6 separate regions of the Homo sapiens genome follow, and regions 1, 2, 3, 5 and 6 are each linked to region 4. The links come from fine-mapping of genetic effects on gene expression. A gene starts in region 4. Each other region holds a variant in brackets. All regions are shown on one strand. Distances are between the middles of the regions.

Region 1 (5,074 bases), 110 kb after region 4:
CTAGTACAACTCTTTCCCTTTACAAATAGGGAAACTGAGGCCCAGAAAGGGGAAGGGTCACCCAGTGAGCAAGTCAGAGAGACAGGTCCAGAACACAGGTGTCCTAGCTACCAGGTCAGTTGCACTTTCTAGATACTGTGCTGTCTTCCTTCTTTATGGCTTTCATCTTCTTGTTGTATAAAAGGATTTTAAAAGATTATACTAAAACTTGTAAACGAAGCAATTCTAGCACTCAGCTCAGGCTGATCAACACGGTGAGTGATCTGATAATGCCCTCTGCAGTACAGGAGGAGAGAAGTGGGCAGAAAGGTCAGCTTCTGCTTACACGACCAGCAGGGAGGCCTCCCTGATGATAATTTCAGCACTTTTGCTGTGTGGCTAGTTTCAATTTTTAACTCTTTTTACTCAACTAATATAAGGATGAGTAAGTAATACAGCATTGTAGGAAAACTAGGCAATATAGATAGGCAAAAAAGGAAAATGAATGTAATTTACCACTCAGAAATAATTATTCTTAATATTTTAATGGATTTATTTCAGTATTTTTTGTCTTTTTTTCTTTGCTTATGAACATCCTCTCCCGTATGTATGTATGTATGTATGTATGTATGTATGTATGTATGTCTGTCTGTCTGTGTGTGTGTATATATATATATATATTTTTTAATGTTTTTTAAAAACAGAATTTGGGTCACATTTGCATTATATTTCAAAGTTTTGAGGTTGCTAGTCTTATGAGGAGGCAGGTAGGGTGTCATTATATTTGTTTTACAGATGAGGACACTGAGGTCCAGGGAGACAAAATGGCACTCCCCAAGTCCCCTCACTGGTCAGGGCTGTCCAGGACTGGATGCCAGGCCTCCTGATTTCTGGTTACTGTAGTCAGCATGAGGCTGGGATGCTGTGCTCTGCCTTTCAGGGGTTGGAGTGCTTAGCGGACAGCTGTACGCCACAGGTGGGCATGATGGGCCTTTGGTGAGGAAGAGCGTTGAGGTTTACGATCCTGGAACAAATACCTGGAAGCAAGTGGCAGACATGAACATGTGCCGGCGCAACGCAGGTAATGACTGCTCTCTCCATCTCCCCTTTGGGGGTTGTGTGCCTTTTCTCCCTGAAGACACTGGCTCTAAACAGCAGGGAGATTTCCCAGGGTCTGGAGCTGAGCGTATATCCTGAACAGGGAGTGTGCATTTGCCAGGTGGGCTCTTGATTAGAGGAGGGGAGAAATTGAGACCCCAAAAGCTAGCTGCAGATCCTGCAACCTAGATGCAGAGGATCCCCTTTCCCCGCAGTGAAGGGTGATGACTTTTACCGCACACAGATGAGCACAGACCTGGGAAAGTCCTCTGGTTGCCATCAGTGCCCGCTGCCCAACAGCTTTAGTAGGTAGCTAAGGACAGGGCTCTGTGGACAAGGGCCAGACAATGGCACTTGGTTCTATCTTTTCTTTGCCAGTGCCTGGCTAGGAGAACTTCTCACTTCCTACTTGAAAGCAGTCTCCTTCCTTGCAGGGACAGTTGGACCCTTGATGAGTTCTCCTTTCCTTATTGCTTTCTTTGTATTCCTGTCTTTGCTTTCCTTCTTGTCTCCTATGCCTTCCTGTAGGAAAGATTTACTGTAGTGTATTTAGGTTTATATTTCTTGGAGCATGAGGCCCCTTTTAAGCTATTTCCTTTTTGAGCTTTGCCTTGTGGGTCGTGTACTGTGTCAGTATATCCTTTATGCCTCTTTGCTTTAGGAAAGTGTTGGCTTAGCCCAACTTCCCAGGCTGGAAGGACACACAGGTGACTTTCAGGCAGATCCATTTTCATTATTCTCATATTACCTGTTTGCTAAGCCCATTCGTGGCTGACTTGGAAGTGTAAACCGGGGGGGGGGGTGGTGATATTTACTAATTTACTCATTGCCTAAGCCTGCTGCCAAGTTCTCATTTGGCTTTAAGCCACATGAGCAAAGAATTACAGGACCCTTAAGGCAGCTAGTCTATCTAGAACCTGGGAATTCAGTTTAGATGTAAATGTGTGTTTGTATAAAATTCATACATAGATATTTCTATTTTTTAATAACAAAAATGGAATTACACTATAACACTATTTTATAACCTGTTTTTTAAAAAAACTCACTTTACAATCTCTCATGAACGTCTTATTACAACACTAAACTTATTTATATGATATTATTTTAAATGACTATATCATAATTTAAACAACCAATCTACTATTGGACACAGGTTATTTCCATCTTTTCTATCCTATAAGTAATACTTGAGTGATTATAAATGGTCTTTATAGCTAAATTAGTACACACATTTAAAATTATTTCTTTAGAATAAAAGGCCAGAAATGGATTTTTTTTTTTTTGAGACAGGATCTCGCTCTCTCAGGCTAGATTGTAGTGGCATAATCTTGGCTCTGCAACTCTGCCTCCTGGGCTCAAGAGATCCTCCCACCTCAGCCTCCTGAGTAGGTGGGACCACAGTTATGCGCCATCACGCCTGGCTAATTTCTGTATTTTTTGTAGAGACAGGGTTTCACCATGTTGCCCAGGTTGGTCTTGAACTCCTGGGCTCAAGTGATCCATCTGCCTTGGCCTCCCAAAGTGCTGGGATTACAGGTGTGAGCCACTGTGCCTGGCCAGAAGTAGAATTTTTTAATCAGAGGAAGCACATGTATTTTAGACGCCATCCAGGAGGGTGTCCATTTTTTCGTCTCACCAGTATTTGAGAGTACCTTCAGCAACACTGATAATTACTACTTTTTAGAGTATCACCAATCCCTTAATCTAATTTTGAAAAAATACACAACATATTGGACTGTGGCCTTTGAAAGTCTTAATGAGCAATAATTCATTACATTTTCCTATGCCTTAGACCCTGCTGTATGAGACCTTGCCCAAAATCCATCT[C/T]CCTTTGAGATCAGAGTAGGAGCTGTTCTGCATCCCTGGGAGTTGTGTGTGAATGTAGACCCAGTCTTGTAAAGGGATTAGAGACATAACCATCAGCATCACACAGTGTGAATATAACATAGGGCTTATCAGGGAAAAACTTAGCAGCAGAGAAGGAGTAGCATGCATGAAGTCCCCTGAATTGTCTTATTCCCTAGCTCAGGCCTGGCACAGGAGGTCTGTATACACCTTTCCATTAAAGAGGGGTCTGTGCCCATATGCTCTACATACTTATAGTATAGGTATGTGTGTGGCGGGGGGCATACACGTTATAAGTAATCAAAACTCCCTGGTCAGAGAAATGATCCTGTTAGGAAGAAGGATCCTTGGAGCCCAGTGGCTGTTGTCAATATTTTCTTTCACTTAGCAAACTCAAACCTGTGGAGCCAAATCTCTGTTGTATTGCCATGAAGGGAGGAAAAGAGCCTCCCAGGCTATCCAGATTTGTCTCTTGATCAATTCTGATCTCTTAGTGCACCTGCTGTGATGTCTCCCATGGCTTTTGTTTGACTCACAGGGGTCTGTGCAGTAAATGGGCTCCTGTATGTGGTTGGAGGGGATGATGGATCCTGCAACTTGGCTTCGGTGGAGTACTACAATCCTGTCACTGACAAATGGACGCTGCTTCCAACGAACATGAGCACGGGGCGGAGCTATGCAGGTCAGTGTGTGCCATCTCCATGCCCATCCGAGAGGCCTCCAACACACTGGGGGAATGAGGGTTGGGTGGGCCAGTGGGATGAGGGGATGTGAGCTTGCTTAACTTGGGCCTGAGTGCCTCCTCCAGGGATGACAGGTAATTGTTACATGGCCACCACTCCTTCATTCTGCACTCATGACAGATATTGATAATTAGCACTTATTAACCCCTGCCCCTGCCCGAACCCTGTGAACCTGAAGATAGCCTCAGAATTTATAACATTCATTCCATCGAACCACTTCCAACTGAACTGAGTTGTCACAAGTGATTTTAGAATTTCATTGCCATTCCTGGTTTACTTTGTGCCAGGCTCCTAGATGGCATAAGATGCGATTGTTGTTGTCCAGGGTCGAATTGGACAACTGGGAAGACAAGATGATGCATATACAAGTTCTAAATGACATACGCTAGACAGGTTTTAGCACATGAAAGACTGGTGAGAACTGGCAAAGCCAGGGAACCCTTCCTGGAGGAGATAGGCTCAATTAAACTTTGAGGGTGGATCACAATCACACAAATAGCTGTCCTTTACTGCGTGGCTGGCCCCGTGCCATGGGGCAGTGTGTTAGGAACAGAGTGTGCATTTGTTCTCATCTTTTCAACAACCCTTGGGCTGAATGGGACTCTATCCGTCTATTTTATGGATGATATAACAGGTTTGGAGAGTTTAAGTAACTTGCTGAAGGCCACACAGCTAATAAATGGCAAAGTCAGAGTTCAAACCCAGAGTTCTAAGTCCATGCCCTTTGTGCTACCCCAGCTCAGGGTAAGCCTTAGAGTAAGGCACCAGGCGGGTGTGGAAGCTTCTTGGGGAGTGTGTGTGAGGGGTTTGGTGAGTAGCAGGGGCAGGGGTGGCATCAGAGTTGGTACTACTAAGGTTGGGTCCATGGGGAGATGAGCAAATATATATCCATGGTGTAGTTCAGTTCCTTGTATCTGGTTTTCCAGAACCTGGAATAGAGATAACATTATTGATCCAGCATGCACAGAACATACCAGGCATTATCCAAAGTATTTTATAGTCATTATCTCTTTTAATCCATACCACGACTCCAGGAATATTCTTCCGATTCCCATTTTGCATTATAAAGGTCAGTCATTCCATCTTGTTTGACTGCAGAGGAAGATTGTGCTGTGCAAATTTGAAGGAGTTTGCAGCACATTCTTTCAACATAAGACTTCTGTTGTAATGAACTTTAACTTTTTTCTTCCTTTAGAGTTTTTTTCACCTTGTAATACTTTTCTTGGCTAAGTATAAAACATTTTAGAAGAAGTTTGGTCCTGGAGTAATTCTGTTCTGGGATGAGTGAGACAAGTGAGGAATCTTCCCTTGACTCCATGTGTGCCTTAATGAGAGGGGAAGAGTTAAGTGTGGGTGGTTAGAATTTCATATATATGCTGAATATTTCATGTCCCTTTCTTCATTGTCTG
Region 2 (5,074 bases), 40 kb after region 4:
CACAACAATTCAGTTGGTTACTGAAGAGGAAACTAAAGCTCCAGAGAGGTCAGGTGACCTGCCCTGGGCCACATGGCCAGGAGGTGGTCGAGCTGGTCCTCAAACTCATGCCTTCCTGGCTTGGGCACCCATGCTTTTAGCCACTAGGCCATGATATCCCTGAATGAGCCTGGGCCCCGGGAGTAGAAGATCTTTAACTCATGTCTTCAAAATCTTGTGAAGGAAAAGCTGGGAGCTTAGGTGACTCCTATTCTCCCCAGGTCATCGTCTCATCTCAGAATTCAAACAGGTGAATAACTTTTGGGTACTAACAGTAAGTGCAAAGTAATTTGGCATAAAATGAGTAGAGGGGAGGTAGTAGAAGTCTATAATTGGAACCAGCTCTCTTTGCTCTTTTCATCATGTATTTATTTAATAACTTTTTTTTCCTGTAAAATACAAAGTGTTTACAAACTTGGATAATTAGAAGATATTCTACTCTGGATCCTTATTGCCTGGTTAGGATTAAGAGGTACATAAAGCAAGGTACAGTTTATGTGGACATAATGTTCACTGTTTGGTGGTCCTGAGTCCAGAAGCTTCTGTCTTATGAGGTTGGGTTATGTCACCCTCCCAGCATGTGGATGCATTCACCAAACTGAAAATTCTCTGAACCTCATTGTTTGGGGACTTTTAATCTCTTCACTTTAAACTGTGGTTAGGTCAAGGGTGATGTTGGAGAAAAAACAAGAAAGATTGGCAAGGGGCTGGGCATGGTGGCTCACACCTATAATCCCAGCGCTTTTGGAAGCTGAGGCAGGCAGATCACCTGAGGTAAGGAGTTCGAAACCAGCCTGGCCAACACAGTGAAACCCTGTCTCTACTGAAAAGACAAAAATTAGCTGGGCGTGGTGGCAGGTGCCTTTAATTCCATCTACTTGGGAGGCCGAGGCAGGAGAATCACTTGAACCCAGGAGGCGGAGGTTGCTGTGAGCTGAGACTGCACCACTGCACTCCAATCTGGATGACAGAGCGAGACTCTGTCTCCAAAAAGAAAAAAAAAAAAAGATTGGGAAGAAGAGAGTTTGGATAAAAACATGGATTCTTCTTCATGCTGTTATGTATCTGCTGAGGCGGTTGCTCACAGGTTGTCTGTGAAGACAGGAGGTATTGAGGATTTGGTGCACCGAGGAGATGAGCATGGAGGCACTGGGGCTTTCCTGAAAGCCTTAGAAACAAGGGTCAGAGATCTGGGGCTTGGTTAAATGGCTGTGAGAGCTACACCTGGAGTCCCTTCCCAGGCACACGTACCTTGGAGGGACCCTGAGTTCCTGTTCCGTGGTGGAGGTACCAGCAGTCATACTTTTATAAGCAAGCATGTGCCCATCAATTCACATGCATTATTCCATTCAATTTTTATAATCACCCATTGGACCATACCAATATGATTCCTCCTTTACAGCTGAAGAAACTGGTGCTCAAAGGGGTTAAATAAACTGCCACGGTCACATAGAGAGTAAGTGGTAGAGTTGGAAGCTGAAGCCAGCCCCCTCTGACTCACTGTGCTCTGTGGCTATGATGAATTCTAGTTTCTCATGAAATGAATGATCAGAACCTTGACTTTGGCTCATAATTATTTACAATAATAAAAACTAACATCAACTGAGCACTTCCTATGTACCAAGCACTGTGCTAACTGCTTTAAATTTTTCTCATTTGATCCTCATAACAAACCTTATTGTCCTCATTTTATTTTTGAGGAGACAGAGGCATTGAGAGGTTAAGTAATTTGTCCTCAGTTGCATGGCTGGTAAGTGGAGGAGTCAAAATTCAAAATGACGCTTAATCACAGTGCTGTTCTGCCAGCTTTCCTGTTCATCTATATACCCCCCCACCTCTTTTCCTTTCTTTCTTTATGTGGCACTGATTCTGTGCCAGACCCACTGTGTGATTGGGGCAGAGACCCTGGGTGGCCCCAACACCTGCGCCCCCTGGCTGATGCCCTCCCTCTGTGCATGGCCCTGCCTCCCTGCA[A/G]TTCCAGGAGAAGGTGCTTTCTGAGGCAGGGCATTTCCTTTTGTTTTTGCTAGAGGAAGCAAACTCTGTGGCAGGATATCCTCTGCTGTGTTTTCATGTTATCTGAGGAAGAAAAAAAAACAAAACGGGGCCTGCACATGAAAAATGGAGGGGAAGCCATTGCAAGCTGAAGGGTAACCTGTAGACTCTTGCTGGGGGCCATTTCAGGGCCTGTTTTCCAAGAACTGTAATGCTGAGGTGGCAGAAGGCAAGCTAGAAGATTTTTGACTTACGGTAATCTTCCATCCTGATGGGTGGATTTGGCCAACTACTCCTCTGATCTCAGCCTCCTCCCTCCAGGGACCAGGCAGTACTGCCTTAGTTATTCTATGAGGATGGTCTTGCTTCAGAGCTGAGGACCTGCACTTGGCCTTTTGTTCATAATCTTGTCACTGCTGCTGCTTTGAAGAAGTAGAGTTTCAGGCAAGATAAGAGAAGAGGAAGTCCTCTCAAAGCCCTGTTGATGTGGGGAGAGGGAACTGAAGACAGTCATTTCATGGATGTATTGCTCTTTTTTCTTTCAGGGCCTCTGGGAATGTATTTTGTACTTGTGTCTAGATCCCAGAACCCCATTGGATGGGGCCCTAATTTATCCCTGAGACCCAGAGTCTGAGCAGTGATACATCTTCCAGCCTCCAAGCCTTCCCTTCAGCATTCTGATTTCCTTGACTTTTTTTTCCCACACTTTTCTGTATGAAGCAAGTAGAAGGAAGAAAATGGCCTTTGACTCTAAGCTAGTCTCAGAGTCAAAGAGAGGGAAAGAGCAACTAGAGAAACCAGAAGGCCCATTCATTTTAGGAAGTCGGTTTGGGAAGGCTTTTGGGTAGGAGTGGACTCAAACAGGATAAGGGGTGTGGAGAGGTAGAAAGCCTTATAATTTTTGCCTACTAAGTGGGTATTGTGAACAGTAGGGAAGTTGAAAGCCATGTGGGTAGCTCTATCCAGGGAGGTTTTAAAAATGGAAAGTGTAACCTAAGGAGTATATTCAGGAAATATTTATTATTTCATTTCTCTGGCTGGTTGTCATGAGCTTGAGAATTTAAGCACCACACTGTGCTGCTGTCTCCTTGGAAGAGGGGAAGGGGGAAGGGACTGTGTGTCACTGGCATGATCTTGTATATGCGTATGGGGTTGGGGAGCTCGCTGGAATGCAGTCTGAGGGCAGATTGGACTCTCAGAAATCCTCTTGGATGGTGGGTGGTGGGGAGAGGGTTGCTGTTGAATTCCTGCCTCTTCTCACATCTGGCCCTTTTGGAGTTTACCACACCTCTGAGTAGGGTTTGTGCTGGCCAACATTTGATGGCTTCCTCTCCCTCAGGGCTTCTGAGGGTCACTGGTTAGAGGTTACTCCTCCCTAGGATGAACACCTATCCTATTTTGCCCAGAAGCGAGGGGCCTTCTGAGAGGGGGACTTTCAGTGGTAAAAATGGCAAAGTCCCAGGTAAATCAGCATGATTGGTCAACCTATGGCCTTGACACCAGTCTTAACTCTAGCTGATACTGGCCAGGGGGTGTCATGGAGGTCATTTGGAGACTGGGAGCAGAGCTTTTTATTCCTGGTGTGCATTCAGCAAGAATGGTTAATGGATCCCCATTTGACTAGCAGGCAGAGACTAATCTGGTCCTGGAATCTGTTCGGCCGGGCTGAGCAAGCTCACAGGTTAATTGAGTTTCCCAGTTTATGGCTGCTTAGAGGAGATGATGGCTGCTTAGTGGGGAGAGAGTTCAGGTGGTTAGATTTGGATCCTGGCTGTGTTCATTTATAGTCCAAAACTTTCAGAAGAGGGTGATTTTATCTTTTTCTTTCTCAGGAATGTATTAGTGGTTCAGAAAATATCACAGACATGGTGTTAATTTACTGTTTTCCTGCTGGGGATATAGGATAGTGGAAGAGAGGATGGAGGAAGGGAAAAGGAGCACGTTTTCTAGAACTCAGCTGTCGTGAGAGAGAAGTGTAAGCCTGTGGGTAGGAGCAGCTTTCCTTGTTGAGCGTAGGCATTTGGCTCAGGAGTTCGAGCACTGATAGTGGTGGCTCTTGGTGGTTATTGTCTGTGGGCAGGGATAATGAAGGGTGACCGACTGTCCCATTTTTAGCCCTGAAAGTCCTGGGAAACCCCCAGTCCTGGAAAAACTAGGACTGTTGGTAAACCCAGTGGAGGGACAAAGCCCCCAAATGGGCAGTGGGGCAGAGTTTTTGGCCTGAGTACATAAAAGTGATGAGAGTCAGAGCTGAGGACTCAGAGCTGTCTTGGGAGAAAGAGTCCAGAATTTAAAGCACTTAAAAAAAAAAAAAAGAAGTCTTTTTCAAGTGTCCTGAATCAAGAAAACAAATGCATCTGCAGCCCATATCTTCCTGGGCAAGCCCTTGTGGCTGGGAACAGCTAGAGTGTAGCTGGCTCAGTCACTCTCTCAGAGCCAGGGCAGCAGCTGAGAGCAAAGGCCTGGGGCAAGGGGATTATTTTGGGGTGAAGTGGATGCCAGGGTCCCCAAGATAAGCAGCCTTAAATCAAGCTATTCTGTAGTGTGATTTTTTTTCTAAATTTCTTTTTGGAAAATCATTCTCAGACTACCTGCTGCTTCCATAGGTGAAGGGCAGGGTAGCAGAGCTGGAGTGGGACAGGACTTTGGCCTTTTGTCCTGTATGTTTGATCTAGAGGCAGGCTTCAGCAGCTGAGGGAAAGTCCTAGGGAAAATTGATAGAGGTTGGCTGTCTGAGCACCCAGCGGGCCTGCTCAAGCCAGTCTTCCCTGACCCTTAGGAAAAACACATGCATATACACCTGAGCAAGAACTATTTCTGTCTTTCAGGATATAGTATAAATAGTCATGTGTCCTGTGACCTTTTAAATGGAAACTTAGCTCTCCTTTCTCTAAGAATGTACCTAAAGATGTTCTTTGCTTTGTATCTGTTTGATGGGAGAATAAAGTGTCGTTGCCTGAGTCCTGAGGGATTTGGAATGAATCTTGTTCCAGTAGACTCTAAGCTCCAGGAGAACAGGATCTGGTTTCTCTTGCTTACCCCT
Region 3 (5,074 bases), 160 kb after region 4:
AACATATTTAAGCATTTAAACATTATTGATAATAGTGTGGTAATGCGTTATGCGTCTGGCCTTGTAGAAATTTTTCATTCATTGTTATCTCCTTTCTCACTCTCTTTTCTTTTGGTTATTTATACTTAAAAATTATTTTACTTTCGGGCCGGGTGCGGTGGCTGACGTCTGTAATCCCAGCACTTTGGGAGTCCGAGGAGGGCGGATCATGAGGTCAGGAGATCGAGACCATCCTGGCTAACATGGTGAAACCCTGTCTTTACCAAAAATACAAAAAAATTAGCCGGGTGTTGTGGCGGGCACCTGTAGTCCCAGCTACTCGGGAGGCTGAGGCAGGAGAATGGCGTGAACCTGGGAGGCGGAGCTTGCAGTGAGCCGAGATTGCACTACCGCACTCCAGCCTGGGCGACAGAGCAAAACTCCGTCTCAAAAAAAAAAAAAAAATTATTTTACTATCATTTTAGTGGGATTTTCAGAGGGAGAAGAGACAAATGCTTGTGGTCAAATTTTTGAAAAATATTTTTGTTCTTTTTCAAAATTAAACATGTAGTTGACTGGCTTAGGTCCAGCAAGTACTATTCTGCTTTTGTATCATCAAGGAAACTTCATCTTTTTCTAAACTGTACAGTGCTTATATGCTGTTTTTCCTCTAGTAATAGGTCTTTGGTTTTATCCCCCTATAATCTAATATTAAAGAATTTGTAAAAATAAGGAACAACACACAAATATAGTAAAGCTAACAAAACTGAACTGCTGTTTGGGGAACAAGGCCACCCAGTAATAACTTGAAATCTTTGTCCATTAGTTAGGAAAGTCTACCTTTGGAGAACAAAGAACAGATTAGAAATGACAATGTATAAGATACAAAAGTTAGATGTGGACATTAAGGGCTGTTAGTAGACAAAACTAATGAGGTTTCCTATTGTGCTTCTCCCCACCTGCCTTCACTCCAGTGTGTCTGCAGGACTCCAGCAACCCACTAGCTCGAGCTCCTTTCATCCTTCAGCACCCAGCCCAGACAGTTCTGCCACTGAAAACCTTCTCTCTTTGATCCTGGCAAGGCAAATTGCTCTGCAGATACTTTGCTCTTGCTTTGTTTTTCAAATCCTTATGGTGGTTTCCAAATGTCCTTCTGTGAACTGGTGCTAAGCTGTGATAAAATTTCACTGGTCTTTAGAAAAATTAGAAAAATAAGGAAATGTAAACTGTGTATTTGTGTGTGTTGTGGGTACACACATGGTGTGAAATGCCAACTCTTTTTTTCTGGTGAGGAGTGGCCTTCATTATGAAACTGTCCTTTATTTTTATTCTTAGATAATAAGGAAATGTCTTTCACAAAATAGTGATGTTAGTATATTGTAGACAAACAAATGTTTGCTTGGCAAAATAACAGGTTGTAAACATCAGAAGCCAAGCTCAGAATTAGGGTACTAGAATGTCACATGGGAGCAGTCATTGCAATAAACCACCTGATACAGTTAGGCTGAGTCCCCACCCAAATCTCATCTTGAATTGTAGCTCCCATAATCCCCATGTGTCATGGGAGGGACCCAGTGGGAGGTGATTGAATCATGGGGGTGGGTCTTTCCCTTGCTGTTCTTGTGATAGTGAATAAGTCTCATGAGATCTGATGGTTTTATAAAGGGCAGTTCCCTCCACACACTGTCTTGCCTGCCACCATGTAAGACGTGCCTTTGCTCCTCCTTTACCTTCTGCCATGGTTGTGAGGCCTCCCCAGCCATGTTGAACTGTGAATCCATTAACCTTTTTTTCTTTATAAATTACTCAGTCTCAGGTGTGTTTTTATTAGCAGCATGAGAACAGACTATTACACCACCTATGGAATTAGCTACATCTTTTGCACTTAGTCTTTGCCTTTCTTACAGCAAATATCTCTGTCACGAATTCTCGTTCCTATGCTGAGTGTGTAGGGTCTTCAGAAGACACTCAGCACACCCCTGGAAATTAATGGATGAATGGATCACATTCCCTGGCTGCTGGGTTAAGCTTATGAGCTTGCTTTCAAGGGGTTGGAATTACTTGTATGGGACTCAGGTCTTGCTGTTAATATCATTGTTGTGTATTTGGTGCCAGGACACTTCCCTGCCTTTCCATTCCTCCTGCAGCTTTTATAGGGAGGCCAGCCCCAGCTTGGCAGCATCCCAGGGACCAAAATTCTTCTAGTACTTCCTCTTCCTTCCTCCTCAGCGTAACCCACATCCTTCCCTTGCCTCTCCCACTTAAGGGATTTCCCTAAGGGACCCTGTTTGATTCATCACCACATCTTTACTCTCTTCTGGCAACAAGCCCAATGCCTGGAACAGAGTAGGCACTCAGTCAATGTCTATAGAATGAATAGTAAAGAATCACGCCTAGAAATTTCACAGTACATATAATTTGCAGGTGCCTCCATGCTTTCATCATTTACTAGAAAAAACAATGAACATTGAGAACTTTGTAAATCACAAATCCTAAGAAATTCATGGATGACCTTGTGTAAGAATTTGTGAACCTCTTAAAATTATGTGAAAAATCTTATGTATGGTTGATGAATGTGCATTTTTCTGGGGAAAATAATTTTCATGACTACACCTTTAAAAGGTTAAGAGCCATCAAAAAAATGAGGCTTGGACCTATGCACAAATACACCTGAATATACATTCTAAGATGGGAAGTGCTGTATCGATACAAGAAATTGTTATTATTGTCTTCGGGAGTCTTGCTTTGGGATACCTGACCTTCTGCCCTGACCACATTTTTTTGTTGTTGCCATCCTTTCTTGGAAACTCTATAGCTTTGGGCTCTAGCATTTTACCACTGGAAATGAAGCCTGGAATTTTAGAGTCAGAGTCACCGAGCTTACTACATGAACCTAAAGCTCCAGGTGACTCAGAAAGATTTTTAGGTTAATAACTAACTGGATTGGATAGAGTGTTTTGTTTCACA[A/G]ACATGATCATAATTTGCTCTTATTTACTTTTAAATTATAAATGATTATTCAGTAGTTTTTCCACCTTTTTAAATGGGCTCTTGAAAACATTGCTTTAATGAAATATAAAACTTAAAAGCAGCTGTGGTGTTGGTATGTAATGATTGAAGTGTAATTAAGAGTTGTAATTATTCCCAATTAGGCATTTGGAATGCCAAAGTAGGAGCCCTAATCAGCTCAATGTGCAAGGGAGGATCAGACTTGAAACAAGGACAGGGTATGGGGTGGGGAGGGGTTGACTTAGGGACCCCCAAGCATTGAATTGAAGAGGTCTGGTCATGGGATGGCCCATCTAGGGATGGATTCCTCATGTGTGGTGGGATGGTAGAGGGAAGGAAGGCCCCAGCCTTCTCAGGTTTAAGGAGGAAAGAAAGCCCTGCTCAAGGGAAGGTGCTTCTAATGAATGTTCCCCTGGACTTCTGAGCCTTAATTACTCCAGAATTACTCTGGAATAACTTCCTTCCCTTATGAAAATGTAAGTCACTTGAGGGCATAACAGGGACCAGAAACTCCATCCTCTATAGCCCACAGGGACACCATGACCTGGTGTCATCTCCAAGGATGCCAGCTTTCCCTACTCCCACAATTTTGTGCTGCCTTACCCTCACCTGCCTTCCCCAAGACTCCACTAGAAACCTTTCCCCACTTTCTTTTCACAGTTAATATGACAAGGGTTCTGTATTACCATGGCCCTTGGGCCTCCCATGGGCCCAAAGGAGTAGGAAACTCCATTACCTACCTGTCCTTCCTCTAGGAAACTTGGTGTAGATCAGAAAATGTGGTGGTGACTTCCCACTTCTGCTCTGGTTATGAGTCTTCCTGGGGACAAGGGAGGCCGCAGAATCTTTTCCTGCTGTTAGCTCATGAATGAACCCAACTTATGACTTGATGACATGGAATTAACATGGGCAGCAATGGCTTAATGCCTGTATCATTTGGCTTGTGAGGATGGTCCTGCTGATGTTGTTATTTCCCTTGAGCCCTTCTCCTGGATGACACTGGTGCCTGGACCAGGGTAGAGCAGGAGGCAAGTCTGAGAAATGGCATGCCTGACAGACCCATCAGCTGGGAGTGCAGGCACATGTCACAGAGCCATGGTGGGATATGGCTTGAAAGATCCCTTACAACCAGCTCACACTAGTGGACTTTGACACTTGGGTTTTATTTACCAATGTGGGTTAGTATGGGCTCACTGGAGGATTTTGAATAAAGGAGGGACCTGGCCAGAGTTGGGCTTTGGAAGATTTGTCAGGCATCCTGTTTAGGGGTGTCGATAGGTGCGGGGAGCCTGGAAGCAGGGAGATGTACTGGAGACCGCTGTTCAGTCCAGGGAGTGGTGGTGATGAACTGGGAGCAGGCTGGCCTGGGAATGGCATGGGAGGGCCGTGGGCTGAAAGGTCGATGGGTAGGGTGTGGGGAATAGCAATAGAGGAGCCCAGGTGCCTAGAAGGATGGCACAGGGGAGTAAGGAGGAGGGGGCCAGGCAGAAAAGTCAGGGTTGGGATATTTTGAACTTGGATAATTGGAAGGATTAAAAGAGAGAGAGAGAGAGATATGTGAGACTATTTGGGAATGAGAGCAGGAAGAGACTGAGTTTGGGATGAATCATATTGTTTGAGAGAATGTCCAACCAGCATGAGGAGTATGGGAGCTGGGTTGGAGCATCTGGGTTGGGAGAGAGCAGAGTGAAAATGCAAGAGGATGAGGACCAAGTCCTTTGCATGGGGGCGGGGCTGCCTGTGTGAACCCAGAGCCAGAAAAGAGCCAGGGGAAAAACAGTTCTGCTGGCCAAGCTGATGGCTTTCTTGGGACCTTCATCCTTAAGGACTGGAGCAGCTTGGGTTGGGTCTGTGGACTCACTGTGACTCTGGTCTGTTGAGGGTATTAAAGGAGGCTCCCGTGCTGGTTAGTAGGCTCTGACCCCAGAACTGGGCAGATCTGAGTTCTAATCCCATTGTACACTTCTAGCTGTACAGCATTGGCTAACTTACTTAACCTTCTGGATGTCAATTTTCTTGTTTGTAAAATAAGACCTGCCTCATAGGTCTTGCAGCTAATATTTACTGAGCACCTTTGGTGCCTTAAGCA
Region 4 (5,074 bases):
CAGTTGGTTGTAGGTGAACAGCTTTATTTCTGGGTTCTCTTTTCTGTTCCATTGGTCTATGTGTCTGTTTTTGTACCAATACCATACTGTTTTGGTTACTGTAGCCTTGTAGTATAGTTTGAAGTCAGTTAATGTGGTGCCTCCAGTTTTGTTCTTTTTGCTTAAGATGACCTTTCTTTTCTAAATGGCCTCTTCTGAGTGTTCTCTATTCTGTCTACCTCCTGTGAATCATGAGTGGTGAATAAAGTATGAAGGTGTAGTCGTATGGTTTTGCAGGGAAATTTAGCAGGGTTTTATACTGGCTCTTAATAGTTATATTTTGAAACTTGAATACATACAACCCTTACATATTTCCTTTTCTGATCTTTTTTCTTTGTCTGGTTTGTTAGATGTGGCATTTCCACACCTTCCTGTATGGCGAATATGTAAACGTGGGTATGTGCAAAGGAGGAGTCATCTCTTTCTTATGTCCCTTTTATGAATCACCCAGTTGTGTTCCTGGTGGATGTCTGAACTCTGGCACGGATTCCGAGATTCAGTTTCCTTATTTGTGATGTTCAGCTTTTTGTGGTCCCTGTGATTGGCCTCAAGAGGAAATATCTGGAGCAGGGCCACAAGGCTGATTAGAGGAGGAAGGGACATAGAGGGAACAAGATATGAGGGGTATTGTTGTGCAAGGAAGAAGTGAAGATACAGCCCTGTGGGGTGTAAATGAAATTATCCAGGCCTCTTCTCACTTGAGAAAGAGTGAGTGTGAGTAATGGCCTTGTCTAAGAGAACACTGAGGTGCCAGGGGAGGTAATCTTTGAGAATAACCCTGTAGCCAGTTTGAGTTCAGGAGGCTATATAAAGTTTTAGTTACTTTTACTTTCTGTCACCTCAGTGTTCCTCTCTTCCTTCTGTGGTTTTAGGGCTTTGTAGTAGTGAAGAAATTTAACAGGTTAAAATGATAAGGATGATAGATTTACTGAGCGTCTCTTCGTACTTTCACCTACATCATGTTATCCTCCTTGAAGCCCCCTACAACACATTGGAGCCTAGTATTTCTTCTTAAACAATCACACGGATTACTCTGAGAAGAAAAACGGACCATTTAAAACATTTTTAGAATCCTGTGATCTTGGAGCTGAAAGGGACTCTAAAGATTGTCTGGTCTGACCCTATATTGTGAATGAGTAGCTGAGCATGAGGTCCAGAGTGTGGAGAACACTACTCAGGAAAGTCACTCACCCAGTGAGTGCTGGTGTGGATTCGGAAAAGCCCAGGGGTGCCATGAGGTGTCCCAGAAGAGAGATGCTCATAGCTGATTTTTTTCTGAGGCATTAGGATAGCTTCTGCACCACTTTTTGCAGCTAATTGTCCCAGTTACCTCTAAGCCTCTGTGGCTAGGATATACAGACTGGCCTCATGCCTTCCACAAGATTATGTTTTAGTTTGGGAAAGAAGATTTATAAATAATGAATTAGCCAAGACTGTATATTAGGTGTGAGATGACGATACAGGAAAGTATAGTTTGTGTATTTTGGTGGTGATTGACTGTCATTGGTGTGATTAGGGAAGGTTTTATGAAGACATGGGATTTGACTGGACTCCCAGAAAGACTAAAGGACTGGGATTGGAGAAGGCATTTCAGGCAGGGAGAGTTAAATTAGTCTAAATTGAAGCTCAGCAGCTGGAGATTACAGGATGTGAAAGATCTTTGGCTGGATATGGGGGTTCAGTGGGAGACTTACTAGTTGGAGCCACTGCTTAAGTTAAATTCCAATATGACAGATTTTAGGAAGATATTTTAGGATTGTGCTAAGATATTTTAGTATTCATTGTGATAGCTTTACTGCAGTAGTCTTTGGCCTCTTGCAGTAAAATAGGGTTTGTTTCAGTTTCACCTATTTGTACTACCTCTCTTTTTCGACTAGTTTTCCAATTTCTCTCTGTATTCTCTTAATTTCTCTCTGTGTTTTTCTCACTTCTGTCAGGTGCTTTTCCCTTAACTTCTCCCCATCTATCAGACACTCAGAGCTACTACAGAATTTGGGAGGAGGATTTGGAACATAAACTGTGACCTACAAGTGAATTTCCCCAGGTGGATGATAAACTCCACTGCAGGCCACAGAGGGGCCTCCTCATTCCAGCAATCTGGCCAGGCTGACAGACTCATAGCCTATGGGAGCAGGGGAGGGTGTAGGGGCCAGTATTTCTCGGGCTAGTGACGAACTGCCTGATTCTTTGCAGCCTAGACAGAGGAGGCAGGAGCCCCAGGGGCGGGCTAATCGCCTGGGCTGGGGATGCCTGGGCAGATGCAGAGGAAGCTGGAAAGGTGGCAGTGCACCTGGGTCGCTGGAGCTGCCGCCGTTCCTAGGAGACCAAGGAGCAGCAAGCCTGCGGGGGAGGGGGAGCAAGTGGGTTGCTGCTTTTAGCAGCTGAAAGGGCTGCAGGGAGCTCTGGGTAAGACATTTTCTGTTGCTGCTGCTTTTGCGGTAGAAGCTGCTGCGAGTAAGTCAGAGGAAGGAGGATTGAGAAGGGAGGAGGCTTCACTTGCAGCCATGCTGAATCACTGTTGCTGATCAGATTTCCCACTGGTCTGCTGGGAGAATCAAGAACAGAACTAGGATCCCCGAGTGCATACACAGTTCAGCAGCTACCACCCTGGCTGGGCCTCACACAATGGAGGGTGAAAGGTATGTATGTATAAGTGTGTGCTGTGTTGTGTGTGTATGTAAGTGTATGTGTGCTTGCGGTGCAGCCACCAGCTTTTGTGTTTGCATTGGCTAGGCAGAGTTGGAAGACCTGGCCACTGATGGATCTTAAAGGGCGCCAGAACAAGAGCAGGAAAGCCGCTTTCCAAATCACCCGTTCCAGGGCTTGAATCTCCAGAGATCTGGCTTCCGCAAAGGCAGGTCTGGGTTTGCTAGGCAGCGGAGCACCCTGAAAGAAGGGACTTCCTGGCTGGTGTTCGGGAATAGTTTCAGCACAGGCTGAATCAGATTGCCTTTCTCAGGCTGTTTCAAGGAGGCGTTTCCCTTTCCTGGCTCCTTTCCCGGGGTGTTTTTTCTTTGGTGGGGGGTTTTTGATGTCATAGTGGGGCTGACCTGACATAGTGTACTTGCATTTTCACGCAGGAGTGCTTGAATCTTCAGCAAGCATGCCATGCTGATGGCTGTGTGTGTGCGCGCGTGCACGCCGTGTATGCCTGTATACACACACATTCAGGGATGAAGGAGAGAAACCCAGTCAGATGATACTTGCTCTGAACTGAGTTTCATATTTGTATTGAAAAGTTTATGAGTGATACTGGAAGGTCTGTGCTTCCTCCATCAGGGATTTCTTTTGAAATAGGAACCAGCAGAAAAGATTTTAAGTACTTTTGTTGAGCTGGATCTAACTAGCGAGGCAGTTAGATCCTGGCAGGCACACACATCTAAATTTTTAAATTGTTATCTGAAGATCTGAATCTTTCATTGTGAAGGTGCTCAGCGCAGTGCAGAGGTGACATTCCTCTGTCTATGAAGTAAAATATCTCTTGAGTGCCAACCTCTTCATTCTTTGGTCTGCAGTTGGTAGAGTACGAGGCTTGCCATTTTATCTGAGGAGAGAAGACTGCAGGGAGGGGTCCGGCCATGGCAGTGCACCACTGAGGGGAAGCCTGCTGCTCCAGATTGCCAGTTTGATGCAGACAGTAACCATCTGGTTAACAATAATAGGCTCAACTAAGTCAACACTAGAGAGTATCTCAATGAACACTTTCCTTTTCATGAGTTGTTGTGACTTCTGTGTCTCACGGGGCACAGTGATGCCATTAAACATCTCTAGACCCTATTAGAACTAGCATGATGATTGGGTGTCATTCTTTTGTCTGTAGAGGCCCTGGGAACTGTGTTTCTTGATGACTCCCACAGGAAGAGCCTGGGACTGACTGTGCTGCTGGTGCATTCTCTTTCTGGGTGCTCTTTGCAACAGGAGTTTAGTGTTGAACTCTGTGAGGCCTGCTGAGCAGCAGAATATGAAGGCCTATTTCCTAAGTGTGGGGCAGAGGTGAGCAGTGTCTTTGGTCCCCAAAACAGTGTCCCATTGATCTGGTAGGTGGCAGAGAATGGGGTTGATGCGATGAAGGTTTAGAGATTCTGGGCCATGCCTATTTGCTTGACCTGTGGTGTAACTGGGGTTGAGAGGTCAGTGTGAGACTACCAGCAGCGGATCAAACAGTTTTGGGCACTGTGTTCCCAGTTCTGTGTTCAGAAATATAGTGAGTCCTTGCCCCTGTCCTGGGGCCTCTCAGCTGGGATGGCTGATGTCTATGGCTTTAGAACACCAGGTTGCACATGTTCTTGTACTTTTCCTCTGCTGAAGGCAGATGGTAGACAAGAAATCCAAACCGAGCAGCTTCCAATGTTCACCAGGTCACCCAGGTCATACCTTTTGTTCCTGCTCCAAGTCCAGCTTACCATGCCACGCGTTCAAGTCTTCTGAACTCTAACTCCTGTTCCCATTTCCACTGCTCACTCATATACCTACTGAGAATTCTGTTGATCTCTTTCATGATCACCCATCCTATACATTACTCCATCTAGCCTCATATCCTTAGCTCCCAGAGTTTCTTTTGCTGGATGTCTTTCCCTTCCAATTTTGCAAAAGTTATCTATCTATCAAGGTTATTCTAAAATTCTACTTTATCTTGGAAACTCAGCTTTTCTAGTCCTGGCTGATGTTCTTCGGAATTCTAATACCTCTGGTTTGTATCTCATAGTTGGACACTGAATAATAGGCCCACCAGATCTTTCAGTGCTTTTATTTCATATATCTTAGCAGTCCCCAGACTTGGAGACAGGTCCTCAAGGGCAAGGCTGGTGCCTTGTACTTCTAAATACCCCCATTGACTACTGCATGGGTACACAAATAGCAGGTGCTGAATAGTTATTAGCTGATTAGCTAATAACTTTTGTGTGAGGCTCTGATAACTAAAAAGAAAGTTGGTGAAAGAAGAGACTGAAGCCTTTGGCCAATAGCCTCATCTTTGGATATCAGCCTTATTATCTTAGCACGGGTAACTGACTTCAAGGAATGCTTTGAGGTAGGG
Region 5 (5,074 bases), 22 kb after region 4:
GTTTGTGACTGTAATCCCAGCTTTGCAGGAGGATCACTTGAGCCCAGAAATCTGAGGCCAGCCTGGGCAACATAGTGAGACCCATCTCATTAAAAAAAAAAAAAGAAATTTACGTCTCAACCTAACTTAACACTATATTGAACACATTTTTCTATGTCATTAACTGTTCTACAATATTAAGTGGATCAATGATATTCTATTTTTGAGTTATTTTTTAAAGACAGTTCCCTGTTGTTGGATGTCTAGGTTTTCCCAGTTCCTCATATAAATAACCCCTGCTATGGTTATCTTTGTAGCCATATAACATAGTGATTACAAACATAGACTCTGACTTCAAATCTTGGCTCTAGTACTTATTGTGTGACCCTAGACAAGTTAATTAATCTCTCTGATCTCACTTTTGTCAACCATAAAATGAGGCTAATAAGAGTACCAGTCTTGCTGGCTTGTTAAGAAGATTAATGAATGAAGTGCTTAAAACAGTGACAACACATATATTACTGTTGTTGAATACTTGTACACATTCATGATTATTTGTATAGAAGAGAAGTAGAATTGCTGATTTGAACAGCCTGTAGAATAATAATAATAACTATGCCTTAGATATTGTTGTGAGATCCTGGCACATAATGAATATTCTGTAAGCATTAGCTATGATGATGATGATGATGATGATGTGCTAAGCACTGTGCTAGGTTCAGGAACATGGCAGGAGATAAGAGGACTAAAATCTTGCCCTTAGTGAAGCTTGTATTCGCATGTTATTGAAAGGCTACATCAAATTCCAAGGTATTTAAATGGCTAACTTATGAAAAATAGAGTGGAAAGGGGAGGCAGGGAGGAAGGGGGTCTGCATTGATACTTTATTGATCTGAGTGAGTTTAATGGGAACTAGAGAGAGGCTGGGTATACTTATGGAGGCCTGGGCTAAAGCATCTTGCCATCCAGGGGTTAAGCTAATGAAATGTTACATGATATTCCAGGGATTTGGGATTATTTCTTGCATTGCTTTCACATTCCCTTCCCTTAATTTTAAGCTATTTTAGTTCAAGCACACATGTTCTTTGCAATTTATGAATCACACAATTCATGAGTTTCCTATTCTTTTTACCTCCATGGTAGAGAATGGCTGTTGGCATAGTCACTGCCAAGCCTTCTTCCTCCTTTTGCACTTTGTTGCTCTGCTGTGGCCAGACCACAGCTGCTGCTTCTGGATGGCAGAGCTCTAGTGACTCTTACTCCTGACTTACCATCCAGCAAGCAAATGGGGCTGTGGGCCTTCTTAGAATAGCACATCCTAACCAGGCCTGAAAAGAAGGGGCAGAGAGAATGGAACAACCAATGAGTAGAATCCACATGCAGTCTTTCTTTTCTCATTTTGACAATTTTAATCTCCCATTTCACCATTGCAAACAGTTCTCTGCTCTCATCTTTTTTTTTGATGGTCTGTCACTATGCTTTTATTATTGTTATGAACCATCTTAGCATATTGCTTTCTGTTTTTCTTTTGGTAACAGTTTTATCAAGACATAATTCAGATGCCATACAATTTACCCGTTTAAAGTTACAATTTAATGGCTTTTAGTTTATTCACAGAGTTGTGCAACCACAATCTTAGAATATTTTCATCACCCTAAATAGAAACGCTGTATTCTTTAGCAGTCATCCCCTCCATAGTTTACCCCATCCTTACCACCACTCCCCATCAGCCCTAGGCAACCACTAGTCTACTTTATGTCTCTATAGATTTGCCTGTTTTAAAATCATACAATAGGTAGCCTTTTGTATCTGGCTTCTTTCATTTAGCATAATGCATTTAAGGTTCATTCATGTTGTAGCATGTCTCAGTACACCATTCCTTTTTATTGCAGAATAATATTTCATTGTATAGATATACCACATTTGACTTCTGGCTATTATAAATAATGTTGCTATGAACATTCATGTACAAGTTTTTGTGTGGATGTATGTTTTTATTTCTCTTAGGTATATGTCTGGGAGTGGGATTATTGGGTCATATGGCAACTTTAATCTTTGGAGGAACTGCCAAACTGTTTTCAGAGCAGCTGCCACCATTTTACATTTCCATCAACAGCAAAGCTTCTACTTTCTCCACATCTTCTCTAACACTTCTTATTGTTTGTGCTTTTGATTATAGCCATTCTAGTGAGTGTAAGGTGGTATCTTGTTGTGGTTTTGATTTGCATTTCTCTGATTGTTAATGATGTCGAGCATCTTTTCATGAGCTCTTTGGCTATTTCTATATCTTGTTTGGAGAAATATGTGGGGTTGGGGGAGGGGGGAGGGATAGCATTAGGAGATATACCTAATGCTAAATGACGAGTTAATGGGTGCAGCACACCAACATGGCACATGTGTACATATGTAACAAACCTGCACGTTGTGCACATGTACCCTAAAACTTAATGTATAATAATAAAAAAAATCTCTTGTTCATTTTTAATTAGGTTATTTTTCTGTTTATTATTGAGTTGTAACAGTTTGAGTTCTTCACATATTCTAGATACAAGCTCATTATCAGGTAGATGATTTGCAAAAAATT[A/G]TTTCTCATTCTATGGATTGTCTTTTCATTATCCTGATGGCATCCTTTGAAGCACAAATGTTTTAAATTTTGATAACTAATTTATCATTGTTTCTTTTATTGTTTGTGCTTTTGGTGTCATATCTAAGAAACCATTGCCTTATTTGGAGTCATGAAGATTTACCCCTATGTTTTCTTCTAAGAGTTTTTATAGTTTTAGCTCTTGCTTTTAGATCTTTGAGCCATTTTAAGTAAATTTTTGTATATGGTGTGAGGTAGGGATCCAACTTCATTATTTTGCATATGGATATCCAGTTGTCCCAGCACCATTTGTTGAAAAGACTGTTTTTTTCCCAGTTGAATGATCTTGCTACCTTGTCAAAAATCAATTGAACATACAAAGGTTTATTTCTGGACTCTCAATTTTATTTTATTGATCTATATAGCTATCCTTATACTAGTACCACACTGTCATATTTTTTGAGATAGGGTTTCATTATGTTGTCCAGGCTGGTCGTGAACTCCTGGGCTCAAGCAATCCTCCTGCTGCAGCCTCCTGAGCATCTAGGATTATAGGCATGTACTGCTGCACCCAGCTACACACTTTTTTTTTTTTTTTTTTTTTTTGCTGGTTATTCCTCCCCTCAACCTCTTAACCATCTCCCATGTCTGAATTCCAGGACCATGTAACCACTTGCCTGCTTGGTAACCTTACTTATGTGTCCAGTGGGCAGCTCAAACTTAACATGTTCAAAACTTAACCTCTAATCTTAAATGAAATATTATTTGGAAAAAAGAAGATATGGAGGAAAAGTGAAGCAGACAATTGAAAAAAAACCATTTTTTTAAAATTTTTTTTCAAAATATGAAAAGTTAACATTTGCTAAATATTTACTATTAGCACTATGCATTATCTGATTTACAGCACATGTCAATTCTGTGACACTCTGGGGACGTTGTGTACTTGTCTACACTAGAGAGTGGTGGGACAGAGGTTTGAGAGGCTTGAACTCAGGTGAGTTTGATTTGAGAGCCTGAGCTCCTTCCTAACAGCTACATTGTACTTTTCCACAAATGGCAAAGTGTCTAGTCCTACTTTTCTCCCCTCAAGATGGAGTAGTGTGATAGCTCGGAAAAAAGGATCCCATAGGATCCCAGGTAAATTGAATAGGAGTGCTTGTGAGCCATGCAGTGCTTTAGAGCTACTACTTCCCTCTTCCATGTAGCATGGATACATAAAGATGTCTCCAGTGTGCAGACAGGCTTCCCCACCCCCAGGGAAAGCCCATCTTAACTATTTGGCAAGTTTCTTTTGGCCAATTTCCCAGGTTAGTGTTTCTCTGGCCTTAAGATACACTTTCCACCCATCAGAACTGCTGTCATTTATTTGCTTAACTGGATTCTCCATCTTTATTCTTCATTCCCTTGTGTTTCTTTCCCATTTGTTCAAAAATTGTCAGGCTCCCTGGGTTTGTGCAAGATAACACACCCTGACATTTGTTTGTTCAGCTCCTAGCACTGAACATTTGTTCAGCATTTCTGACTCTTCTCTGCCAACAATTTTCTTATTAGTTACCAAAAAATATAACCGGTTACTCTTTTTTTTTTTTTTTTTTTTTTTTTTGACAGAATCTTGCTCTGTCACCCAGGCTGGAGTGTAGTGGCATGATCTTGGCCCACAGCAACCTCTGCCTCCTGGGTTTCAAGCGATTCTCATGCCTCAGCCTCCCTAGTAGCTGGGATTACAGGCATCTGCCACCACACCGGGCTTTTTTTTTTTTGTATTTTTAGTAGAGAAGGGGTCTCACCATGTTGGCAAGGCTGGTCTCAAACTCCTGGCCTGAAGTGATCTGCCTTCCTCAGCCTCCCAAAGTGTGGTTATTCTTAAATAGCAGTGATAACTCAATTTTCTTCCTAAATGTAAGTAAAAATGTCCAAGATGAGTCTATTCATGTTGGAAATACAATTTTAGAATAAAATTTAATGAGACTAAAGGCCATTTTCAGATGGCACCTGTAATCCCATTTGGCCCCCATGATATATGTCCCAAAGGCAGCTAAAACAGGTGAGAAAAATGGGGTGAGCTTATTTGCCCATGGTCTCATAGCCAGTTAGGGGAAGAGCCAGTTCTGTTCCTGGTTGCACTGGTTTATCCTGATACAGTTGGTGATTAAGGTCTGCTGTCCACTGCAGGGTAAGGTCTCAATCCCCCGGTTTTGCCTCTTGCTGTCCAAAGGTCTCACCCTTCCAGGAAGCCTCCTTAACGATACTTTATTCTACTTCCTGTCCACTTCTCCCTGTTGGGGCTAACCTGTCTTCTGTCTTTTCTCATTCTGAATGTCAGCCAATCATGAGGCATTGTGATACCATGGAAAAGTCACTGTGTCTGGAGTAAGGAGAACTGGATTCAAGACTTAGACTTCTGTGGCTTTGGGCATCTTTTCACCTCTCTGAGTTTCATAGACCAGATGATCTCTAGTAGCATTTGCAGCTCCAGCCTTTTCAGGCCTTATGATTCTATTTCTCTGATAT
Region 6 (5,074 bases), 30 kb after region 4:
AGTGGACCAGGCTACTCTTACCTTACTTTCAGCCTTGGGCCAGGAATTTCACACTGTAGCCCAGAAAACTAGCTAAGTTCAGTATCTGGAAATTTTGAGCTGCATTCCCTTTTGAGTTGTCCTAAACCCTAGCTGCAAGGCCTTTATTTCCTTTTTTCCCCCTTTCCTTCATCAATCTCTATTTTAAAATAGTTCATCTTGTCTGTAATAGTTATTTAGCTGTAACTTCAATAAATAGCTCTGCCAGTTATTCTTTGTGTGTGGAGTTTGGAAAGTTCAGTGTTGAGAGAGGAATCTGTTTGGAATTGCAATGAATTGTCATGCTGGCTCCACTTTTTGTTAACGAACTTGCCTCTGAAGTAGCGGAAGTGTCATAGCAAAACCAAAGTGATTTTACAAATTGGAAGAAAAAGTGCTTCTGGGGCATTCTTAGATTCTAGGAATGGAAGGGACGGGAGAATCAAGAGAAGAAAGCAGTGTAATGCAATGCCCAGCCCAAGCCTTCCATTAAACCTGGTTACCATCCATCCTTCCACCCATCCATTCACCCGTCCATCCAAATACTGTTCACATGTGTTTATTACAGGTAAAAACCAGAAACTGTGGGCAAGCAAAAAGTAAAAAATTACGTGTACTACAACATCTAGGTAAGAGTATGGTTTATATCTTTTTAGATTTTATATTTATAAATGTATACATATACAAAATATATATTTTAACATAAGTTCATTTAATGTGTACAGTTGAATAGTCTTTTTTTTTTGAGACAGAGTCTCGCCCTTTTGCTCAGGCTGGAGTATAGTGGTGCAGCCTCAACTCACTGCCACCTTCGCCTCCTGGGTTCAAGTGATTCTTGTGCCTCAGCCTCCTGAGTAGCTGGGACTACAGGTGTGTGCCACCATGCCTGGCTAATTTTTGTATTTTTAGTAGAGAGTGGGTTTTGCCATGTTGGCAAGGCAATCTTGAACTCCTGGCCTCAAGTGATCCACCTGCTTCGGCTCCCAAAGTGTTGGGATTACAGGCATGAGCCACTGCTCCCAGCCTAAATAGCCTTTTTTGATGTATGTATTTTTTTTTAAATTGCTATTCATCTTCCTGGAATGTTCTCTCCTCCATCTTTTGGCCTGTCTGACTCCCGTTCATCCTTCATTACTGCTTAAGCATCACTTCCTCAGGAAGGCCTTTTATGACCTCTTTGGCTTAGGTTAAATTCCTTTGCTACTTACTCCCATGGTACTTTATACTTCTCTTTAGTATTACTACTCATCTTATTACTTCCTCAATGTTTGATTTCCCTGGCCAATCATACTCTTTATAAGGGTAAGAACTATACCTTTAAAATTCACCACCATGTCCCTGCTGCCTAGCATGGTCTTCCATATAGCAGGTGATCAATAAAAATTTGTTTAATTGAGCTTAGCAATATATAATGAATATCTTTCCATGTCAATGAAATTGCAGTTACAACCTAATTTTAATGCCTTCATAAGATTCCATTATATATACTCTAATTGAAAATTCATTTCCTTCGTTGGAAATTATAGTTTTATGTAATATTTTGTTATTATAAATAATGATATAATGGGCATCCTTGCATCTTAATCTTTATGTACATTCCTGATTATTTTACTAGAATAGATTCCTAGAATAAGAAGTACTCGATTAAAAGGTATGCACACTTTGAAGACTTTTGAGACATGTGCCGCATTGATCTAAAGAACAGTTGTACCAGCTTATGCTCCCATCAGCAAGATATCTAAGATTTATATATTTTTAAGGCCCATTGGCTTTGCCTAAACCTTGGTAAACAGATACTAAAAATCTCCAGTAACATTGCAAAATTTTGTTCTAATTATCAGGTTCAGCTTCAAAACGTGTAAAATGCATTGTGTACTGAGAGTAAGAGGCTGACTCTCGTTAGATCCATTTCTATCAGTGTGTTTAAAGCCAAAAGGAAAGTAAAATACACATGGCTTTCTTCTGACTTGAGTTGTGTGATTATGGTCTTTTACTCAAGCTTAAATGTTTTTATTTTTTTGTCTTCCGAGTTCATGTTGCCCAAATGTCCTGAGGTGGTTCCAAATACCAATCCCACACTTCTTGACCATTGTCCTGTGGACAATAACTTGGAATAAATGTGAAACTGAAGTCTGAGTGCCCATCAGAGAGTGTCCCAATCCAACCAGTCTATAAGAAGATCTGG[G/A]GTGAGCAGTCAACCTATTTGCCCTTTACTGCTTTCAGCATAACTTGAGTGGGGAGGCCAGTAGTGCTGTGTTCTGCCCATCTTTTTCCTATAAAGATGAAATGTCTAGGACTCATTCCCCATCCTCCCCATCCAGCACCTCCATCCCAAGGGAAGCAATTTTCCCAAAATCTCCTCATCAGTGTTTCTCTCTTTATCATGCCCTTTACCATGGCTTCTGTATACTGTAGTATTTGTACTCCATATGGGTCCCTGCCTACATGTCATCCAGATACAGCCCCTATTTTATGGTGTTAAAGGAACTGAGGTCTACAGAATATATGGGCTCAGGGTCTTATGCCCATAATCATGGCTAAAAGACACTTGGGCTTCCATCCCAAATGAAGCCCTGGGAGTGATCTGTCCCACTCATCTGGTCATATTGTACTGTATGTAGTGGCTGATTTAGATTGGTTTTTGTTTTTTAAAGAGGAGTTACTGTCCAGTTTTTATTAGATTTAGGCTGATGTTTGGTATCTTTGAATATATGGTAAGTAGAAATAGAGAGGAGAGTTCAGGAATGTGCTGGGGGTGAGAGACAAGGGGCTTAGACTTGGAGTAGGCAGGAATCATCCACAAGGCAGAACCATGAGGGCCTGGCTGTCTTATTCACTTCCCAGGCATGAAGTTCCTTCCACAGAACTGTTGTTTCACCCTTGCTGCAAGCCAGACTCTACCAGGCCCTGGCCTGTGGCTGTGTCTGTGTTCTAGTGTTTGTGTGGTATATTGATGCCTTTGAAGAGCTCTGCATAACATGCAGCTCAGCAAAACTGAATACAAGGCAATGGACAATGAGAGAAGGAGAACTAGGGAATAGAATTCTTTTCTTAGACAAAGTGGGCCTTCAGGGAGGTTGCAGAGTAATAGTGGTAGTAGATAGGGTCTGGTTTCTGAGAGTTTTGCCCCTGAGGAGTCAGGGATTAGGTAGAATAGTTCAGAGAAAAAGGGATGGCGGTGTCAGAGGCTGCCTGGGATGAAGGAGCAATGGCTTCACCTTCCACGTGGCTATCTTCTAGAGTTAGTCACTTTTGGGCTAAGTGACAGTGACATAGGGCTTCTTCTTCCTGTCCCTATCATACCACAATAAAGTCAGGCATCTTTTTCTGGCTCAAGAGACCCAGATACCCAGATTTGAAGGTGAGGGAGCCAGTAGTCCTGTCTAATAATGTTACCCTTGATGCAGAAATGGCAAGTTTCTTGAGCAGGAATTTGGCTTGTGGTTCAACAGAGGACTGTGTGGTGCTCAGGAATAGAGACTGCTATTCACTTCCAGTGGTTTCTCCATTAAGGTGCAACTGGTTTGACCAAGATGGTCTGAGGTAGACTTGTTTGGGTTTAGAGTAGCTCAGCCTTAAAATTGAGACCACCATTGGAGATAAACTATTGGTAAGGAATATTTTATGAATGTTCATAGAAGAGGTTTGGAGTTGGTGATGTGGGGGCCTCTTTACTAAGGATTAAACACAAGTGTGGTAATGCCGCCTTGCACTGGGAGATGGTGTGGTATCTTGGAAAGGGCTTTGGAGTAATAATGACCTGTATTCCAATCTTTTTTTTTTTTTGAGACGGAGTCTTGCTCTGTCGCCCAGGCCGGACTGCGGACTGCAGTGGCGCAATCTCGGCTCACTGCAAGCTCCGCTTCCCGGGTTCACACCATTCTCCTGCCTCAGCCTCCCCAGTAGCTGGGACTACAGGCGCCCGCCACCGCGCCCGGCTAATTTTTTGTATTTTTAGTAGAGACGGGGTTTCACCTTGTTAGCCAGGATGGTCTCGATCTCCTGACCTCATGATCCACCCGCCTCGGCCTCCCAAAGTGCTGGGATTACAGGCTGTATTCCAATCTTAACTGCATAGGTGCGTGGAGAATTCACTTTCCTCTCTGATCCTCAGCTTTCTTATTGAAGGGACTGGAATAATAACAATAAGTAGGGAACAAATATAGGTAACGGGTATAAGGCACTCAGCACTGTGTAGATAGTTAATAAAGTCTACTTTTATTATTGTAGAGCACGTCATAGTTTTTAAAATTCTTGTGGATGTCGGGGGTGGAGGTGATTAGGGTTGATTTTTTTTTTTTTTGTAGTCACTATGTAATGACACAGAGGCATTTTTTTCCTGACTTTGTGCTTCTCGTGCTTCTAGTTGAGCAGAAAGATATTTCCAGGTGGAGGAGGGATGAGATTCCAGGGAGGGCGGGTGATGAGGCGGTGTCTATCACTGTGGTTCTGCTGGATCCTGCTGTCCCACCTTTCACAATCTCATTGTCTCCTTTGATTCTCACACAACCTTGGGATAAAGGCAGAACAGAGAATGTCCTTATTTCACAGGTGATATAGGGTGACCTGTGCTTCAACAGAGGACTGTGTGGCACTTAGGAATACAGACTGCTGTTCACTCCCAATGTGACATAAGGACCTGTGAACTAAGGACATTCCCTGATCTGCAGTCAAATGGCCCAGACCACTCACCTGCAACAGGGTTGGTCAGGATTCAAGGAGATGGCAGAGTATTTCTTTTTCTCCTGTGAGGTTAATGTCTTTGGCCTTAGTGCTCAGCTCTAGCCAAATGAGTTGGCAGCCCAGATTTTAGGACTTAGATGAGGGTTGGGGGGAAGAAAGTTCCATAACCATCTTAGTGCCCATGAAGAATCATTGCGCAAAGGGTAAGGATTTTCCTTTGTTCTCTCTACCCAGAACATGAGACTAAATTACAGTACTAATTCAAGTTAGGAGCAAGAAGGTATTCTGTGACATAAGGACTCTTGAACACTCCCTTTTCTTGTCTTTAAGGACATATAACTATGTAGGGGTGGTCGGTGGTTTAGCTGTGGTG

Evidence for each region. PIP is the estimated chance that this variant, and not a neighbour inherited with it, causes the effect.
Region 1: its variant is fine-mapped to the expression of KLHL3 in whole blood (INTERVAL, PIP above 0.99).
Region 2: its variant is fine-mapped to the expression of KLHL3 in whole blood (TOPMed, PIP above 0.99).
Region 3: its variant is fine-mapped to the expression of KLHL3 in whole blood (INTERVAL, PIP above 0.99).
Region 5: its variant is fine-mapped to the expression of KLHL3 in whole blood (INTERVAL, PIP above 0.99).
Region 6: its variant is fine-mapped to the expression of KLHL3 in whole blood (TOPMed, PIP above 0.99). The same link has a PIP of 0.9 or more in subcutaneous fat.

The regions. Positions count from the first base shown.
Region 1 is chr5:137,624,283-137,629,356 of GRCh38, reverse strand. It overlaps KLHL3 (kelch like family member 3), which reads left to right. Exons shown (of 15, transcript NM_017415.3): 13 at 920-1,060; 14 at 3,461-3,604. Among named protein-coding and RNA genes, the nearest start is that of MIR874, 21 kb to the left of the region's middle. The variant C/T (reference allele first, on the strand shown) is at 2,905.
Region 2 is chr5:137,693,134-137,698,207 of GRCh38, reverse strand. All of the region lies in intron 4 of KLHL3 (kelch like family member 3), which reads left to right. Among named protein-coding and RNA genes, the nearest start is that of KLHL3, 40 kb to the left of the region's middle. RefSeq lists a silencer at 2,542-2,742 and an enhancer at 970-3,930. The variant A/G (reference allele first, on the strand shown) is at 2,014.
Region 3 is chr5:137,573,198-137,578,271 of GRCh38, reverse strand. No RefSeq gene overlaps it. Among named protein-coding and RNA genes, the nearest start is that of MIR874, 72 kb to the left of the region's middle. The variant A/G (reference allele first, on the strand shown) is at 2,947.
Region 4 is chr5:137,733,237-137,738,310 of GRCh38, reverse strand. It overlaps KLHL3 (kelch like family member 3), which reads left to right and starts at 2,222. Exons shown (of 15, transcript NM_017415.3): 1 at 2,222-2,678. The coding sequence starts at 2,665. RefSeq lists enhancers at 1,955-2,623, 3,955-4,024.
Region 5 is chr5:137,711,249-137,716,322 of GRCh38, reverse strand. The region is part of intron 2 of KLHL3 (kelch like family member 3); the gene reads left to right. Among named protein-coding and RNA genes, the nearest start is that of KLHL3, 22 kb to the left of the region's middle. The variant A/G (reference allele first, on the strand shown) is at 2,564.
Region 6 is chr5:137,703,122-137,708,195 of GRCh38, reverse strand. All of the region lies in intron 3 of KLHL3 (kelch like family member 3), which reads left to right. Among named protein-coding and RNA genes, the nearest start is that of KLHL3, 30 kb to the left of the region's middle. The variant G/A (reference allele first, on the strand shown) is at 2,204.